Homo sapiens: one gene and its partner. The protein of the gene in region 2 interacts with the protein of the main gene of each other region in a biochemical or structural test. Each region holds a gene or a part of one and is shown on either strand. Other genes may lie near its edges.

Region 1 (3,500 bases), on a different chromosome or scaffold from region 2:
AAAGCAGAATACAATTTCCCTGAGATGAAGAGCTGAAGAAAGACTTGAGTTTTTCAGATCAACAATGGCGATAGAAGATTATTGAAAAAAGAAAAAATTATATAAAGATCTTTAGCAGGCTGGGCATGGGCTCAAGCCTGTAATCCCAGTGCTTTGGGCGGCTAAGGCAGGAGGATCACTTGAAGCCAGGAGTTTAGACCAGCCTGGGCAATATAGTGAGACCCTATCTCTACATAAAATTTTAAAAATTAGCCAGGCATGGTGGCAGGCACCTATAGTCCTAGCTACTCAGAGACTAAGGCTAGCAGACCTCTTGAGTCTAGGAGTTCGAGGTTACAGTGAGCTATGATCACACCACTGCACACCAGCCTGGGCAACAGAGCAAGAACTTATCTCTAAACAAACAAATAAACAAATGAAAACCATCCAACTATATTTATTAGCCAGGCACGGTGGCAGGTGCCTGTAGTCCTGGCTACTTGGGAGGTCAAGGTGGGAGGATTGCTTGAGCCCAGGAGTTTGAGGCTGCAGTGAACTCTGATTGCACCACTGCATTCCAACCTGGGTGACAGAGTGAGACCCCATCTCTAAAAAGTAAAATAAATAAAAATAAATAAAGATCCTTAACAAACAAAAACAGATTACTCACAGAGAAAAAATAGACCATTAGTGGACTTCTCATCTACAACACCAGAGACTAGAAATTTATGAAGCAAGGTTTATATATTCTGAGGTGAAAGCACTGTGATTATGACCTCAGAATTTTACACCTAGCTCAACTTTCCCTCACATGTGACAGCAAAAGAAGGACATACAAGTAAAGACACTTAAGGTCTCAGAAAGTAAACTCTGGAATAATTTTTTTAATTACTTGATGGAGTATTCCTGCCAAATGGAAAATTAATCACCTTAAATAATTCAAGAAAGGAGAAGAAAAGCTATAGGAAAACTTATCATGAGCAATGAAACCAATTAAAGTATAAGGTATGGCTAACAAGTGCGTTGTAATATGACCATGAAGCTTAATACCTGTTCAGAAAGGATGTTTACAAAAGAAAAAAAAATTAACAATTTGGTAGTAATCTGGAACTAAAAGTTCACATTATTTCAACTAAATCTGAAAGTGAGAAGGAAGAGGGAAGAAGAAAAACTATAAAAGTGTGCTAAATGTTTTATTTTCTCTGGAAGAATAGTTATATTCTACTCTTTGTGGTGATAGATGAGATAGGTTCTAGAGTGTGCATGTATGTGTGTGTTGGTGTGTGTATACACTTTTTTTTTCTGAGATGGAGTTTCACTCTTGTTGCCCAGGCTGGAGTGCAGTGGCACAATCTCAGCTCACTGCAACCTCCGCCTTCCAGTTTCAAGCAATTCTCCTACCTCAGCCTCCCGAGTAGCTGGGATTACAGGCGCCCGCCACCACGCCCGGCTAATTTTTGTATTTTTAATAGAGACGAGGTTTCACCATGTTGGTGAGGCTGGTATTGAACTCCTGACCTCATGATCCGCCTGCCTCAGCCTCCCAAAGTGCTGGGATTACAAGCGTGAGCCACTGCGCCTGGCCCACTTTTTTTCTTTTTTTAAGACAGAGTCTCATTGTGTCACCCAGGCTGGAGTGCAGTGGCGTGATCATGGCTCACTGCATCCTTGAACGGACAGGCTCAGGTGATCCTCTCTGAGGAATACCTCCACCTCCCGAATAGCTGGGACGAGAGGCATGTGCCACCATGTCCAGCTAATTTTGTATTTTTTTGTAGAGACGGGGTTTCACCATATTGCCCAGGCTGGCCTCAAACTCCTGGGCTCAAAATATCCACCGGCCTTGGCCTCCCAAAGTGTTGGGATTACAGGTGGAAGCCACCACATCTGGCCTATATATATGTTTTGATGGGGAAGTTACCACTCTGTAATTATCATTTAGAGAACTGGTGAAACAGAATGGAAGGAAAGGTAGAAAGTTTCGGCCAGACATGTTGGCTCACGCCTGTAATCCCAGCACTTTGGGAGGCTGAGGCGGGTGGATCACAAGGTCAGGAGATCAAGACCATCCTGGCCAACATAATGAAACCCCTTCTCTACTAAAAATACAAAAAAAAAAAAAAAACTTAGCCGGGCATGGTGGCACACGCCTGTAATCCCAGCTACTCAGGAGGCTGAGGCAGGAGAAACACTTGAACCCGGGAGGAGGAGGTTGCAGTGAGCCGAGATCATGCCACTGCACTCCAACCTGGATGACAGAGCAAGACTCCATCAAAAAAAAAAAAAAAAAAAGAAAAGAAAGAAAGGTAGAAAGTTTCAATAGCGTGGAGATACACACACACACACAAGCACTAGAACTTACATATATATGGATATATACATATAGATATATGCATATATACACATATATATTATATACATATATTTGTGTATGTATATATATGTGTGTACAACAAATACAACTTTTCAACTCTAAGGATTATTGCTAGGAATATGTGAGTCCAAGGAATATCCTAGGCCGCTAAGAAAATCTCAATATAGTCTTAGATGTAGAACTCATACAAACTGTATAAACTGGCCATAGTGCAGAAATTAACAAGTATGAAATCGCACCATCACATTCCAGCCTGGGTGACAGAACAAGAAACCAAACATCAAAACCACTTGAAAATTTTAGAAAACACTATTCTCTAAAACTTTTCAAGAGAAAAAAATTTCTTTTTTTTTTTTTTCGAGTCAGGGTCCGGTTCTGATGCTCTGGTTGGAGTGAAGTGGCACCATCACAGCTCACTGCAGGCTCAAATTCTTAGGTTCAAGCAACCCTCCTGCCTCAACCTCCCAAATAACTGGGACTACAAGCATGTACCACCGACCATGCCTGGCTAATTTTTTTTATTTTTTGTAAAGATGAGGTCTTGCTATGTTGCCCAGGCTGATCTCGAACTCTTGACCTTAAGCAAGAGAACCTTTTTAAGAAAAGACTGAAATGAAATTTGAGAAATGATTGACTATGAGAACACTAATGAAGTTATCAAAGTTATGGCATACAGCCAAAACCATATACAGAGAACTTATGCCTTAAAAGAGTTATTATTAGGCAGGGCATTGTAGCTCACGCCTGTAATCCCAGAACTTTGGGAGACTGAGGCGGGTGGATCACTTGAGGCCAGGAGTTCGAGACCAGCCTGGTCAACATGGGGAAACCCCGTCTCTACTAAAAATAAAAAAAATTAGCCAGGCATGGTGGTGGGCACCTGTAGTCTCAGCTACTGGGGAGGCTGAGGCAGGAGAATCACTTGAACCCAGGAGGCACAGGTTGCAGTGAGCCAAGATCTACCACTGCACTCCAGCCTGGGTGACAGAGGGAGATTCTCAAAAAAAAAAAAGTTATTATTATTAAACAATAAAGATTGCAAATAAATGAATTATAAGTTCAAGAAGCTAGAAAATGAATAATGACAAAAGTTAGAAGGAAGAAAATGACAAAAATAAAATGATCAAACAGAAAGAAGGAAAACATT
Region 2 (3,500 bases):
TAAGCCTTTTAAGCATTTAGCCAACAAATTAAAGCAAATGCAACTTGAGAAGAAAATAAACCATTTCAACAAATTATTTTAAGTAGGGAAGAATTTTTTCTTTTTTTTTTTGTTTTTTTTTTTTTTGAGACAGAGTCTCACACTGTCGCCCAGTCTGGAGTGCAGTGGTGCGATCTCGGCTCACTGTAAGCTCCGCCTCCTGGGTTCACACCATTCTCCTGCCTTAGCCTACTGATTAGCTGGGAATGCAGGTGCCTGCCACCGCGACCGGCTGATTTTTTGTATTTTTAGTAGAGACGGGGTGTCACCATGTTAGCCAAGATGGTCTCGATCTCCTAACCTCGTGATCCGCAGGCCTCAGCCTCCCAAAGTGCTGGGATTACAGGTGTGAGCCACCGCGCCCGGCTTTTTGTTTTTTTTCTTTTTAGACAGTTTCGCTCTGACGCCCAGGCTGGAGTGCAGTGGTGCCATCATGGCTCATTATGGCCTTAACCTTTCCGGCTCAAGCAATCCTCCCACCTCAACCTCCTTAGCAGCTGGGACTACAAGTACGCACCAGCACACCAGGCTAATTTTTTGTAGAGTCAGGGTCTATGTTGCTCAGGGTGATCTCAAACTCCAGGGCTCAAGTGATCCTCCCACTTTAGCCTCCCAAAGTGCTGGAATTACATGCATGAGCCACTCCACCAGCCAAGAATTTCTATTACAGAGAAGTAATTCCAAAGAAATTGCTCCTTTAGTTAGGATTCTATTACCTCAATACTACAACAATTCTCTATTTTCATTAAAAAAAACAATGTATAGCCAGGCACGGTGGATCACGCCTGTAATCCTGGCACTTTGGGAGGCCAAGGCAGGCGGATCACAAGGTCAGGAGTTTCAGACCAGCCTGGCCAATATGGTGAAACCCCATCTCTACTAAAAATACAAAAATTAGCCAGGTGTGGTGGTGTGCGCCTGTAATCCCAGCTACTCAGGAGGCTGAGGCAAGAGAATTGCTTGAACCCAGGAGGCAGAGGTTGCAGTGAGCCAAGATCCTGCCACTGCACTCCAGCCTAGGCAACAGAGCAAGACTCAGGCCAGGAGAGGCTGAGACTGCAGTGAGCCATGATGACACCACTGCACTCCAGCCAGGGCAACACAGCAAGACCCTGTATCCAAAAAAAAGAAAAAAAAAAAAGGTGTATAATATTTCAATTCTTCATTTCTTTGAGACGTGCCCACTAATCGTACAAAAAAATCCTGACATTTCAAATAGAGATTTCAGAAGTTATTGTTTCATCATCTTACCAGAGTTGACTCCAATTTGACCTGGAGTCAAGGTCAATTTAAGTTAAACAAACTTGTCTACATCGTTATCTGTGAGCAAAACATACTCCTGATGATCATCTAAGATTATGTAACACCCTTTCGCAACTCGAAATGGCAGAAAACAGGACAAAATTTTACTACAGCAGTTGCTCTGGTTGCTAACATGTAATATACTCTGTATAAAACACACACTATGCAATAGTCTTAGGTAACTAATTAGCTGCAACCCTAAGGTAGATCAAATAGAAAATGTCAAGTCGCCACAATCACATCATCTTAATTAATATGGAGGGAAGGTAGGAATCTGTTACTCTTCCCAACACTAAGCTTTTCACTTGTGAATACCAATTAGGTTTCCAGTTTCTCATAAAGATCTAACAAATACCCAATTTCTCCATCAGACTGACATCCCTTAACAAAAGCAGAGTTTCAATTCCCTGCATCTCCTTTAGGAGCTATGATATAATGTAGGTAGAAATCTTGCCTTAACTCCATTTACCCACTGTGCTATAAATAAGCAGAAGCAAATATTTTTTTAAGGCTGGAGAGGTTTTAAAAATCTGAACTAATTTAGCAACTGCTGCTGCACTCAGTTTTTGGCAGTTCCCAAACATCCATTATCATGTAAGGATAAATCCTTCTAAACCAGAAAAATGTTTCCTACTTGGAAAAGGCATAAGAAAATACATATACGACCTCCCCATGTACTAGTCTTACATACCCCAGCTCCAGTTAGAACTATAATTTTTTTGCACTCTTGCAGTAATTTCACAGCATCTTCAATTGTATTAATATCTTTTCTTTTTTTCCTTTTTGGTGGTTCTGAAAGGATATTAATAACAATCTGCCACAGTGTCATATCATCCAACTCAGGTGGAGGTATTGTTTCCGGCAATAAATCTTTAAGAATTGTTCGAGGATCTGTGCCAATCATAAGATGTTGCTGAACAAAAGTATATGGACCTACAATAAGGGGGAAAAGGCTTAAAGTCAACTTATCAAGTAATTCAAAATCTCATTTATTTTCTGAAGTAATGAGTTAGCATTCTGTGAGGGTTTTTTGCAAAGTAAGAAAATGCAATTTAATGGTATTTCATTCTCGGTACACTCAGAATTAATGCTATATCCCAATGAGATTAGGAAGATCTAATGAAGAGTTGGGAAGACCCCCTTCAGCTGTAAGTATATATTTCAAGAGTCTAATTAATTAACAACCAGAATTAAGTTCTTATGGTTAATATCTAGAAACACACACCATAATACCAAAAGTATTTACAAAAGGGTTCTACGACATAGAAAAATCGTACCAGTCCTAAAAGCCTGTACTACTTATCATTAAAACCACACAGGAAAAAGAAATGAAAATCTATACATAACTGCCATCTTAATTTTTTTCCGGTAATTTTTCAATTTGATCTTAACCCATCTTCCAAGATAATACATACAATGTTGATGTTCTGAGAACTAATCATTTTCTTTTACCCTGAGATTGCTCAAACCAGCTCCCTAGGCTTGAGAAAACAAAAATAAATAAATAAATAAATTACAGACACCAAAGAGAAACTGATCTTCACTATGTTTAAATAATCAAGCCATTTGTAAGAGTGAGAACACAAAAAGATCCACTTTCAAGATGGTTATACCTTTGGTATAAAAAACTGATAATGCTTTCTACATCGAAATACTTTCCCATTTCATTCACATATTTATTAAATATTTATTGAGCACAAACTATGTGCCAGGCACTTTTTTAGGCACTGAAAAGACAGGAGTATACAAGTCAGTCAAAAATTCCTGCTCCCGTAGAACTTATATTCTAGACCAGGAAACAACACAATTTAAAAAGTAAGATACAGAGCTTTTCAAGAAGTGGTAAGTGTACAATAAAGTGAAAAAACAAGGAATATGAAGTGAGGGAGGAAGATATTCTAACCGGATGAAGAACACTACACAAAAAGGGGACAAGTGAGGTGGGGCAAGGTGGCACATGCCTGTAATCCCAGCACTTTGGGAGGCCCAGGCGGACGGATCACCTGAGGTCGGGAGTTCAAGACCAGCCTGACCAACATGGAGAAACCCCGTCTCTACTAAAAATTCAAAATTAGCCGGGCGTAGTGGCATATGCATGTAATCCCAGCTGCTGGGGAGGCTGAGGCAGGAGAATCGCTTGAACCTGGAAGGCGGAGGGT

What was found. The genes of interacting proteins can lie anywhere in the genome.
Region 1: the proteins of SIRT1 (region 2) and PML form a complex in vitro, tested with the Homo sapiens proteins (one study listed by BioGRID).

What each region holds. Positions count from the first base shown.
Region 1 is NC_000015.10:74,001,216-74,004,715, reverse strand, and holds part of PML (protein PML), read right to left. Parts: intron 1-3,500.
Region 2 is NC_000010.11:67,887,656-67,891,155, reverse strand, and holds part of SIRT1 (NAD-dependent protein deacetylase sirtuin-1), read right to left. Parts: intron 2,275-3,500; coding exon 2,033-2,274; intron 1-2,032. UniProt on the Homo sapiens protein: NAD-dependent protein deacetylase that links transcriptional regulation directly to intracellular energetics and participates in the coordination of several separated cellular functions such as cell cycle, response to DNA damage, metabolism, apoptosis and autophagy.